Linked DNA regions of Homo sapiens. The protein of the gene in region 1 interacts with the protein of each later gene in a pairwise test. Each region holds a gene or a part of one and is shown in the gene's direction. Other genes may lie near its edges. The genes, in order: CSNK1G2 and CERT1.

What was found.
Region 2: the proteins of CSNK1G2 (region 1) and CERT1 interact in binary tests that used the Homo sapiens proteins (3 or more experiments, as listed by UniProt).

What each region holds. Positions count from the first base shown.
Region 1 is NC_000019.10:1,972,148-1,979,268, forward strand, and holds part of CSNK1G2 (casein kinase I), read left to right. Parts: intron 1-2,961; exon of another isoform or gene 2,962-3,924; coding exon of another isoform or gene 3,925-3,967; intron 3,968-6,157; coding exon 6,158-6,198; intron 6,199-6,294; coding exon 6,295-6,364; coding exon of another isoform or gene 6,365-6,454; coding exon 6,455-6,603; intron 6,604-6,711; coding exon 6,712-6,946; intron 6,947-7,015; coding exon 7,016-7,101; intron 7,102-7,121. UniProt on the Homo sapiens protein: Serine/threonine-protein kinase. Casein kinases are operationally defined by their preferential utilization of acidic proteins such as caseins as substrates. It can phosphorylate a large number of proteins. Participates in Wnt signaling.
Region 2 is NC_000005.10:75,377,251-75,382,726, reverse strand, and holds the end of CERT1 (ceramide transfer protein), read left to right. Parts: intron 1-649; coding exon 650-778; intron 779-1,525; coding exon 1,526-1,655; intron 1,656-3,253; coding exon 3,254-3,381; 3' UTR 3,382-4,952; downstream 4,953-5,476. UniProt on the Homo sapiens protein: Shelters ceramides and diacylglycerol lipids inside its START domain and mediates the intracellular trafficking of ceramides and diacylglycerol lipids in a non-vesicular manner.

The sequences.
Region 1 (7,121 bases):
GCCGCACATCGTGGTTTCTCAGGGGTGCCGGGAGGCCGTCCATCGGAGGACACACCAGCCCTTCTTCATCTGCTCCCAGCGCAGGGACGCTTGGCTGTTTCTGGATTTGGGCCCTTCTGAATAGAACTAACTGCCCAAATAGAACTGAATAGCACTGGGCTCCTCGAGCACTCCACGTCCCCAGCACTCAGGACTGTTGGTGGCTTTGATGTTGAGCCTGTTGTGGACTCCGGTTGTTGAATGTTGTTCCGTTGTCTAGAATGTTCTAGAATGTGTCGTTTTTTCTGTTTTTAAGGTTTTTATCTTTGATTTAAAATATTGACTATGCTCTCCTTAGATGAGGCTTTCTGTTTTTATCCTGCTTGGGATCCACTGACTTCTTGGATCTCTGTGTTGGTACTTTTTCAAATTAACTTTGGAAAAATGTGAGCCATTATTTCATGAAACGTTTTTCCATCTCAGCTTTGCTTTGCTTTGTTTTGTTTTGTTTTTGAGATGGAGTTTCACTCTTGTTGCCCAGCCTGGAGTGCAGTGGCACCATCTCGGCTCACCACAACCTCTGCCTCTCGGGTTCAAGCAATTCTCTTGCCTCAGCCTCCCGAGTAGCTGGGATTACAGGCGTGAGCCACCATGCCTGGCTAATTTTTTATATTTTTAGTAGAGATGGGGTTTCACCTTGTTGGCCAGGCTGGTCTTGAACTCCTGACCTCAGGTGATCCACCTGCCTCGGCCTCCCAAAGTGCTGGGATTACACATGTGAGTTACCGCGCCTCGCCTGCTTTGTTTTTTTTTTTTTTTGAGACAGAGTCTCGCTCTGTCACCCAGGCTGGAGTGCAGTGGCGTAACCTCAGCTCACTGCAAGCTCTGCCTCCCAGGTTCGTGCCATTCTCCTGCCTCAGTCTCCCAAGTAGCTGGGACTACAGCCGCCCGCCACCACACCCAGCTAATTTTTTGTATTTTTAGTAGAGACGGGGTTTCGCCGTGTTAGCCAGGATGGTCTCCATTTCCTGACCTCGTGATCTGCCCGCCTCGGCCTCCCAAAGTGCTGGGATTACAGGCGTGAGCCACCGCGCCTGGCCTTGCTTTGGTTTTTTGAGACAGAGTCTCACTCTCTTGCCCAGGCTGGAGTGCAGTGGCGCGATCTCGGCTCACTGCAACCTCCGCCTCCTGGGTTCAAGCAATTCTGCCTCAGCCTCCCAAGTAGATGAGATTACAGGTGCCTGCCACCACGCCCAGCTAAATTTTTGTATTTTTAGTAGAGACAGGGTTTTGCCATGTTGGCAAACTCCTGACCTCAGGTGATCTGCCCGCCTTGGCCTCTGAAAGTGCTGGGATTACAGGCGTGGGCCACCATACCCAGCCTTGCTCTCATTCCTGGGTTCTGGTTCTGCGTGTGACAGGAGTGCTTGGCCCTGTCCCCAGGTCCCTCAGCCCTGGCTGTTTTCCGTCTGCCTCTGTGCTCTCCTGGTGTCAGGCTGTGCGGCTGCTGCTGCTGCTGCTTGAAAGTTTACTCTTTTTCTGCAGCCTCCAACCCCAGAAGTCCATGTGGTGAATCTTTGATTGCTTAGTGGCATTTTTCGGTTTCGTCTGATTGTCCATTCGCTCTCAGCTGAGATTTCCCATGTGCACATTCACTTTGGCCATCTTTTCCTTTAAATCTTTGAACATGTTTGTGCTGTTTCTTAGTCCATTTTGTGCTGCTGTAACAGAATGCCACAGACTGGGTCATTTATTTTTATTTATTATTTATTATTTTTTGAGATGGAGTCTTGCTCTGTTGCCCAGGCTGGAGTGCAGTGGTACTATCTTGGCTCACCACAACCTCCGCCTCCCGGGTTCAAGCAATTCTCCTGCCTCAGCCTCCCGAGTAGCTGGGATTACAGGCGCCCGTCACCACACCCAGCTAATTTTTGTATTTTCAGTAGAGACAGGGTTTCACTGTGTGTTGGTTGGCTAGGCTGGTCTCAAACTCCTGACCTCGTGATCTACCTGCCTCAGCCTCCCAAAGTGCTAGGGTTACAGGCATGAGCCACTGCACCTGGCCAGATCATTTATAATGAACAGAAATTGATGGGCTCACCGTTCTGGAGGCTGGTGAGCCCCAGATTGAGGGTGGCGTCTGGCAAAGACCTTCTTGCCATGTCATGGCAAGAAGGCATGGTGGAAGGCAGGACGGCACAGACCGGAGGGGGCTGGATTCGCCCTTTAGTCAGGAACCCACTCCCCTGCTGATGGCATTCACTCATCCACGAGGGCAGCGACTCAGATCCTCTCTCTAGGCCCCAGCCCCAGCCCCAGCAGTGCTGGATTGGGGACCAGGTTCCCAACACATGACCCTTGGGGGGTGCATCAAAGACACAGCACTGTGTGGAGTGACGTCTGTGCTGCTTCTTCCTCCCTTGTCACGGTCACACCTCCCTCACTCACCTGTGGGACAGCCTCACTGGGCGTGGCCGTGGTGTGTGCCGTGAGGTGTGGAGGGTGCCGTCTCCCGGCTTGAGCGCTGAGTTTGTCCCCGTGGCTCACCTTGTTTCTGTCAGGTTGGTTTCAGCGTTGCTGGGGCAAGGCTGAGGGTAAACATGAGCGACTCCAAGGCCAGGGAGCCCTGTGCCAAGGTGTGGACCTTTTGGGTTCTCAGCTGAAGTAGAGAATCCAGGGAGGACCCCGCACTCCGGCCATTGGAGCTGTGGCGTCCTCCCTCCTGTGTGTCCCCCGGAACCTCCTGAGCCTCTCTGGAGCTGTTCTCTGCCAGGCCCCGTGGGCTCTCCTGCCCTCTGCATGCATCGCGAGTACTGCCGGAGGAGGCCCCTTTGGCTTTCAGAGCCCAGAGCGCCCGACCTCCTCCAGGAGTCTGCAGATCCACAGGCCTCAGATGCTGCCACACCCACCCAGCACACACCCAGGTCTCTGACACGCCAGCCGCACACAGCGGTGGGGTTCAGGCGAAGGTTTCTTCCACAGTGCAGAGTAGAAGAGCCGGGAAGGACCCCATCACCATCAGATGCATCAGAGCTTCAAAGGCCCGCCCATCAAGACGCTGCCAAGAGCATGAGGCCAGCCAGGCTGGGGAGGACGTTGGCGAGCATCCGCCTGCCCGTCAGGGAGCCACAGCTGGATGATACATCGACAGACAGCAGAGGGACGGTGTAGCACACAGGCGAGGGCTTGTCCTCCTCAGCCTGGGGGAGCGCAGCTCAGTGCTTGGTGGTCAGCACGTGACTGACACTTTGCCGGAGAAGGGGACGGCTGCCCGCAGGAAGAGCTACACAGCCGTGTTCGCCGGAACTCCGCTCTGGAGAGTCAGAACTGGAGACGGGAGGGCGTGCCTCAAGGGCAGATGGGCAAACCAAACCCCATCCTCCCTGTGAGCCGCGGCACAGCACCAGGCGGGCACACGCAGCACGACACGGCGAGGAGCCCACCGCAGGGGCAGCCTTTTGGGCGGGGAAGGGGGGATGAATCCACTGTGAATCCCACCTCCGAAGGGCAGCGCAGGAAGGACACGCAAATGCTGGACTGAACCTGCAGCTGATTCAGGGGGCAGTGTCCTGAGCTCTAAAACTTCAAACCTGGGGCAGTGTCCTGAGCTCTAAAACTTCGAAATCTGACCAGGCACAGTGGCTCACGCCTGTAATCCCAACACTTTGGGAGGCTGATGTGGGCGGATCACCTGACGTCAGGAGTTCGAGACCAGCCTGGACAACATGGAGAAAGCCCATCTCTAGTAAAAATACAAAAATTAGCCAGGTTGATGGTGCCTGCCTGTAATTCCAGCTACTCAGGAGGCTGAGGCAGGAGAATCGCTTGAACCCAGGAGGCAGAGGTTCCAGTGAGCCGTGATCGCGCCAGTGCACTCCAGCCTGGGCAACAGAACGAGACTCTGCTCCAAAAAGAAAAAAACTTTGAAATCCCTCTAAAAATAAAATGGACCGGTGGATGGTAGCTGTGAGGATGGACCGTGTGGCAGGTTTAGTTCTGGGGCCTCGGCAATGAGTGTTGGGTGTTTGGGGCACGGCTCCTGTTGTTTTACGAGGAGAATTTCCTAATAACGTGTTACACTGGGGAGAACGTAGGAGGGGAGCCCATTTGTTCTGAAAACGCGGGGACCAGCCCTGGTCCCCGGCTCAGGACTGGAGGGGTTGCCCTGGTCCCTGGCTCAGGACTGGAGAGACCAGCCCTGGTCCCGGGCTCAGGGCTGCAGGGAGGCACCTGGTCTTCCCTCGTCCTCACGATCCTGCACCCTCAAGATGCCACGTTGTTGAGGCTGTTTAGGGAACTTGACAAGCTGATTGGAAACTGTGCTGAAATAGAGCCCAGGTAGTGATGCGGACAGGGCAGTGCCAGAAGGAGCCCCAGCGATTCCTGTGCTGCAAGGCACGCCCAGGACGGGGCACTAGCCGGGGGAAGAGGCTCTCAGGGCCCAGGTGGGACCCCAGCCTCAGACTATGAGGTCATGACTGTGTACAGCTCAGCCACCGGGCTTTGGGACTTTGAATCCACCTTAGCAGGGTTTCCAAACCCATTGTCTCCACGGCCACCCTGCCAGTCCAGCTGCAGCAGGGCGGAACAAAGTGGAGGCCTCTTTCTTGCTTTCTTTTTTTTTTTTTTTGAGACAGAGTTTCTCTCTTGTTGCCCAGGCTGGAGTGCAATGGCACCATCTCAGCTCACCACAACCTTCACCTCCCGGGTTCAGGCAATTCTCCTGCCTCAGCCTCCCTGGTAGCTGGGATTACAGGCATGCATCACCATGCCAGGCTAATTTTGTATTTTTAGTAGAGATGGGGTTTCTCCATGTTTGTCAGGCTGGTCTCGAACTCCCGACCTCAGGTGATCCGCCTGCGTCAGCCTCCCAAAGTGCTGGGATTACAGGCATAAGCCACCGTGCCCGGCCACAGAGGCCTCATTCTGCAGCGTATGCTACTCGGGCAAAGGCAGCTGACTGCAGACCCAACACGGTGACCCAGCTGGATGGTGCCTGAGAGACGGGGCTGCCCCACATGGTGCCCTGTCATGCCGCGGGACAGGTCGCCCAGCAGATGGTAGCTATGGCCCCAGTGCCATCCTGGGCTGGAGACACATGGGTGCCAGACACGTTCATGCCTGTCGTCTGGCCCAGCTGCCGTGGGGAGCCCTCCAGGGCCGTGTGCCTGCAGGGACCGGCCTGTTCACCTCTAGGCTCACCCCTCGGGTGCTGAGTCACCACAGTGGGTGGGGCCGTGCCCCCTCCCAGGCCGGCTTCCACAGCTGCCCCTGCAGAGCGCCTCTGTGTTAAGGGCTGGCCGCCTCCTTCCTCAGGGGGTGTAACATGTAAAAAGCTGCACCCTGGCCTGTACAGGGGCTCCCGCCTGTTATCCCAGCCCTGTGGGAGGCTGAGGCAGGCAGATCGCTTGAGCTCAGGAGTTCAAGATCAGCCCGGGCAACTTGGAGAAACCCCGTCTCTACTAAAAATACAAAAATTAGTTGGGTGTGGTGGTGCGCACCTGTAGTCCCAGCTACTTGGGAGGCTGAGATGGGAGGATGGCTTGAGCCTGGGAGACAAAGGCTGCAGTGAACTGCGATCTCGCCACTACACTCCAGACTGGGCAACAGAGCGACACCGTCTCAAAAAAAAAAAAAAAAAAAAGGTTCTGGGCCTCGTACCTTCTGCGCTTTCATGAGACTCAGCCCTGGAAGTCCTATGTGGCTGGTGGCCCCAGGGAACAGGACCTGGGCTCCTCTCTTCTAACCCATGTGGGCCACAGGTCCCTGTCCATCTGTGCTGGGGCTCACCTGGGGGCCGAGGGCCTCGGGCATGTGGGAGATTTGTCTTTGAGAAAGGGGTGGAGGAGTGTGGAGCCCTTGGGGCTGCCTGCAGGCCGTGAGAGACCTCCCCAGTGCCGCTTCTGTCCTGGGCTAGGGAGGTGGGGGGGCGGGGGAGGAGGAGTGGCAGACACTGAGGCGGTGACCACACGGGCAGGGTGCAGGTGTCGGGATGACTTGGCAGGCCATGGTGCAGTGCTCTGGCAGGCTGGGCCCAGGCCCTGCTGCTGGGCAGTGGTGTCATTTGGAGGGTGGTCCTTCAGGGACCCCCTCCTGCCTCCTGCCTCGGGGGTGGGCTGGGGAGGTCGGGGCTAGGTGGGCCCTGCGCTGGCGGTGCTGATGGTCTCTGTCCCCGCAGGAAAGAATCTCTATACAAATGAATACGTGGCTATCAAATTGGTGAGTCGGCCCCTCCACCCCACCCCCGCTGACGTGCCCCCCAGGGATTTCAGGGCAGCGACCCGGTCCCCTGGTGACTCGCTCTTGTGCCCCCAGGAGCCGATCAAGTCCCGGGCCCCGCAGCTGCACCTGGAGTACCGGTTCTACAAGCAGCTCAGCGCCACAGGTACCGGGCGGCCCGCGGGTGGGGCGGGGGCTGCGCAGGGGCAGGGAGGGGGCTGCCGCCGCACGCCCGTGCGTCTGTCCTCCGCCGCAGAGGGCGTCCCTCAGGTCTACTACTTCGGTCCGTGCGGGAAGTACAACGCCATGGTGCTGGAGCTGCTGGGGCCCAGCCTGGAGGACCTGTTCGACCTGTGCGACCGGACCTTCACGCTCAAGACGGTGCTGATGATCGCCATCCAGCTGGTGCGCGGCGGGCGGGGCGGGGCGGGGCTCGGAGGGAAGAGGGTGGCCCTGGAGGGGAGCGCGTGGGACGGGGAGGGGCCCGGCCGACACCGCCGTGCCCCCCTGCAGATCACGCGCATGGAGTATGTGCACACCAAGAGCCTAATCTACCGGGACGTGAAGCCCGAGAACTTCCTGGTGGGCCGCCCGGGGACCAAGCGGCAGCATGCCATCCACATCATCGACTTCGGGCTGGCCAAGGAGTACATCGACCCCGAGACCAAGAAGCACATCCCGTACCGCGAGCACAAGAGCCTGACGGGCACGGCGCGCTACATGAGCATCAACACGCACCTGGGCAAGGGTGAGCTGCGCGCGCGCGGCGGGGGGCGGGCGCCCGGACCCCGCTGAGGCTGCGCCCCTGTCCCCGCAGAGCAGAGCCGCCGCGACGACCTGGAGGCGCTGGGCCACATGTTCATGTACTTCCTGCGCGGCAGCCTCCCCTGGCAGGGGCTCAAGGTGGGCGAGGAGGCCGGGCA
Region 2 (5,476 bases), on another chromosome or scaffold:
TAGTCCAGATACATATACGAGATAACCAAAATAAAAGTAACTTAAATAGGATAAAAGGTTTTTTTTCTCATTTAAAGTAGGTAGTCCCATTTATTGAAGACCTAGGCTCCATGTCATTCCCATAGTATATGTTTCCCCTTGCATACCTTAATATTGAAATATTTAATCTAAGTGACTTAGAATTCTTTCTAATGTGATTTGATTCAAATAAGTCTTTTTTCATTAAATCTTTGAATCTAAGTAGAACATAATCATGGAGTATGAGGAGAGAGGAATGGAAAGTTGTTGCTTACTGGGTACAGAGTTTCTGTTTGGGATGATGATAAATTTCAGAGATAGCAATATGGTTACATAACACTGTGAATGTAATTAATGTCCCTGAATTGTACCCTAAAAGTTAGTTAAAATGACAAATTATACGTGTATATATTTTACTGCAATTAAAAAAATAGAACATTATTCCTTTTATTATATTGTTCTGCAAAGCTATTAACTCTGTTCATAATTAATCATTTGGTAGATATCCTCAGATGCTTTCCATTTAAAATTTGAGAGATTTTACCTTCAATTAAGACATTTATTGGCATTACGTTTCTCTTGTTAGTTCCATGTTAGATCTGTTTTTCAAAAGATTTTTACTTCTCCACAGAGGGTGTGGCCTGCTTCTCAGCGAGACGTATTATATCTTTCTGTCATTCGAAAGATACCAGCCTTGACTGAAAATGACCCTGAAACTTGGATAGTTTGTAATTTTTCTGTGGATCATGACAGTGCTCCTGTAAGTACATGTATATAAATGTGTATAATTAAACAATATAAAGCTAAATACACAATGCGGGACAAAAATGATAAACACAGCCCATACACTATACTTGATTTGATAATGGTTCTTAGATTTTATGTTGGATTGACTGCTAGGAACAGTATAGCCCATGTGTTGTCTGAGGGCAACAGTCATGCCTATGAACATTCCACCAGGGCCGTTTACCTTTCCTTCTAATGTTTCGTGAAACAGCCAAAAGGGCAGTACATACACTGGGCAGTAGGCTACTTCCCACAGTTATCTCTTAAGCCGTTATCAACTGCCAGCCAAACCTCTGTGGTTTACCACAATTTAGCTCCATTTACTACTTAAGAGGAAGGGATCCTGGGCAACATGGTTAGACCCCATCTCTATTAAAAAAAATTTTTTTTTTTTTTTTAATTAGCCAGGCCTGGTGATGTGCACCTGTGGTCCCAGCTACTCTGGAGGTTGAGGCGGGAGGATTGCTTTGAGCCCAGGAGTTTGAAGCTGCAGTGAACTATGATGGCACCACTGCACTCCAGAGTGGGCAACAGAGCAAGACCTTGTCCCCAGAAAAAGTGGGTGGGGAGGAATCCTGGTGTCATATCAGCTTGGTGCTTATAAGATTTCACTGGAGATACTTTTAAGAGTTACGATTTTGGTTAACCTAATATAATATTAGACCAGCAGAGTTTACAAAATACTGGGTATCTACTGATGCTTTGTTTTTTGTTTTGGCAGCTAAACAACCGATGTGTCCGTGCCAAAATAAATGTTGCTATGATTTGTCAAACCTTGGTAAGCCCACCAGAGGGAAACCAGGAAATTAGCAGGGACAACATTCTATGCAAGATTACATATGTAGCTAATGGTATGTATTTTATTGTTTTTGCTCTTTGATAATGTGGCTGTTCTTGATCATGACCTATATGACAACAATTTGGACAAATGCCTTTTTAGTTCTTATCCATTAGATTACTAATTTTTAATTTGGAGAAAGGTATATCAGAATTACTAGAGAATCTTTGAAAGTACAGATGTCTGAATTTCACCCTGGAACTACTACTATATGAGTATTTCTGAAGCTAGAGCTGGATAGGAAAATTTTAAAACTTTATCCCTAGGTCACTGTATATACCCTTCTTTTTTTTTTTTTTTTTTTTTTGAGATGGAGTCTCGTTCTGTTGCCCAGGCTGGAGTGCAGTGGTGCAGTCTCAGCTCACTGCAGCCTCCGCCTCCTGGGTTCAAGCGATTCTCTGCCTCTGTAGCTGGGATTACAGGTGCCCACAACCACGCCTGGCTAGTTTTTTGTATTTTTAGTAGAGACGGGGTTTCACCATCTTGGCCAGGCTGGTCTTGAACTCCTGACCTCGTGATCCACCCACCTCGGCCTCCCAAAGTGCTGGGATTACAGGCGTGAGCCACTGCGCTCGACCTAGCCTTCATATTAAGCACCATTTTCTTAGATATTTGCCTCATAGAACAGATTTATTATTAGGAATATAAGCAACAGTGGGGAAGGAAATTAAGAGTTCTTTTACTCATTGTCAGCCTTTTTAGCTTTCTGAATCAATGTTCCCCTAGTCCTTATTAGTTGCTAGTTACATATTTATTTCTCTTTGACATTCATTGTCAGGCTTTTTGTTTTCTGAGTCAGCGTTTCCCTAGTCCTTATTAGTTGCTAGTTACATATATTTGTTTCACTTTGGATAGGTCTTTTCATTGCTTGCTTTGGGTCCTTACTTCACCTGCTTTGCACCTGGAGTAATCATTGCAACCTCTCTCATCAAAAGTCATACCTTCTTTATACAGGGCCATAACTGCTAGTATGTTCAAAGAAACAGTTGTACCTGAGTAAGTTACTATTTCATTATAGTACAGATTTGTGAATAATCTGCCCTAAATAACCTTAAGTGGTGCTATACTAATTTTTGCAGGTAATTTCGGGAACTAAGAACATTGTAGAAAGGTTATAGATGCTTTCTTATTTGCTGTCTGATTATGTCTGATGGATAGTGTTAAGGAATGAAGGGTTGGGACTTAAAAGATCATAATTGGTCCAGCTGGGTACAGTGACTCAGCCTGTAATCCCAGCACCTTGGGAGGCTGAGGCGGGCGGATCATGAGGTCAAGAGTTCGAGACCATCCTAGCCAACATGGTGAAAACCCATCTCTACTAAAAATACAAAATTAGCTGGGCATGGTGGCGTGCACCTGTAATCCCAGCTACTCCGGAGGCTGAGGCAGGAGAATCACTTGAACCCCGGAGGCGGAAGTTGCAGTGAGCCAAGATCGCGCCACTGCACTGCACCCTGGCAACAGAGCAAGACTCCGTCTCAAAAAGAAAAAAAAAAGATGCTAATTGGTCCAATGTGAGGAATATTTTAAAAACAAGGGAACAAATTAAGTGCTTCACATATGTTTGGAGAATTGTATCTTAATACATTTTAATTTTCCTTTATCTTGCAGTGAACCCTGGAGGATGGGCACCAGCCTCAGTGTTAAGGGCAGTGGCAAAGCGAGAGTATCCTAAATTTCTAAAACGTTTTACTTCTTACGTCCAAGAAAAAACTGCAGGAAAGCCTATTTTGTTCTAGTATTAACAGGTACTAGAAGATATGTTTTATCTTTTTTTAACTTTATTTGACTAATATGACTGTCAATACTAAAATTTAGTTGTTGAAAGTATTTACTATGTTTTTTGATGTTCCCCTATAGAGTATTGTTTCGTTGGTTTTTGTTGTTGTCGTTGTTGTTGTTTTAAACAGGGTCTTGCTCTGTTTCCTAAGCTGAAGTGCAATGACACCATCACGGCTCACTGCAACCTCAACCTCTGGCCTCAAACAATCCTCTCATCTCAGCCTTCCCAGTAGCTGGGAGTCCCCACAGGCATGTGCCACCATGCTCAGCTAATTTTTTATTTTTTGTAGAGATAGGGGTCTTGCTATGTTACCCAAGCTGGTCTTGAACTCCTGGCCTCAGACAATCCTCCTGCCTCAGCCTCCCAAAGTGCTGGGATTACAGACATGAGCCACCGTGCCTGGCCTTGAAAATTGTAGTTTATAGCCTTTAAAACTTAATTCTTTTATTGTTTCCTTTTTCTTCTAATGCTTATGTAAAGAAATTTTGATATTATAGAACTGTAGAATTGTAGAAGTGCAAACTTCCTGTATTCTTTCCTTTCCCAGAAACTGTTATTTTTGTTGTATATTCCTCCAGATTTTTCTGTGTATGTACTGACATATTTTTGAATGTTAAAATGTTTATACTTACTATTATACAAAATTCTTGTTTTATAACCTTTTTTTCACTTAACAATGTATCTTGACTATCTTTCTTTATAAGACATGAGATGTGTAAAACATCTCATTCTTTTAACATCTGTTACATGCATGTTGCAGAATTTATTAACTAGTCCCATGTTAATGTCTGAGTTGGTTCCATATTTTTACTGTCAACCAGTACAGCACTGAACACCTTTATGCAAAGAGGTAGAATCTTTAACTTTATTTTGGTGTTGTTGAGACAAAGTTTCTCTCTTGCTGCCCAGGCTGGAGTGCAGTGGTGCAATCTTGGCTCACTGCAACCTCTGCCTCCCAGGTTCAAGCGATTCTCCTGCCTCAGCCTCCCGAGTAGCTGGGATTACAGGCGTCCATCACCACGCCCAGCCTATTTTTGTATTTTTAGTAGAGGCAGGGTTTCACCATGTTGGCCAGGCTGGTCTCGAACTCCTTACCTCAGGTGACCTGCTCTCCTGGGCCTCCCAAAATGCTGGGTTTACAGGCGTGAGCCACTGCACTCAGCCCAAAATCTTTAACTTTTTAAAGTAAGTGATACGTTAACATGATTAAAAGCCAAAAGTGGCCAGGTGCAGTGGGTCACACCTGTAATCCCAACACTTTTTGGGAGACTGAGGTGGGAGAATGGCTTGAGGCCAGGAGTTCAAGTCTAGCCTGGATAACATAGCAAGATTCCATCTTGACAAAAAACAATTAGGCGTGGTGGTATACATGTATAGTCCTAGGTACTTGGGAGGCTGAAGCAGGAAGATCGCTTTGTCTGGGAGTTTGAGGCTGCAGTGAGCTGTGATTACACGACTGCACTCCAGCCTGGACAGGTAATGTCTGTCAAAAAATAAATAAATAAAGTCAAAAGTATGAAAAAGTTATACAGTAAAATTTACCCTGTCTTGCATTCACCATATAGTATTAACATATGCTATTACTAGTTTCTTCTAGAAAGTTTTTAATGCTTGAATGAACAAATACAAGTGTATTTTCTACACAGATACACTTTTTTTGTTGTTAAAGAAGCAGCAGCATACTATAAACACTGTTCAACATCTTATATTTGCATTTATTTTATCTTGAAGGTCTCACATATTTGTAAGGAGCTTCCTCATTTTGATGGTTATACAGTATCCCATTGTATAGATGTACATAATTTATTTAATCAGTTCTGCATTGGCGAATATTACAGTTTCCAATTTCTGCCAGAGCAGTGTCATAATTGTATCCATATGTCATTTTGTACTTGCAAGTTTATATGTGGGAAAATTAATAGATGTGGTACTACTGGCCCTGCTAGGGGTTTGTGCATAATTTAGATACTACTTTTCATAGAGGTTATAGTAATTGACCATCTCAACAGCAATAATGAATTGGAGTCCCTGTGTCCCACAGTTTTTCATAC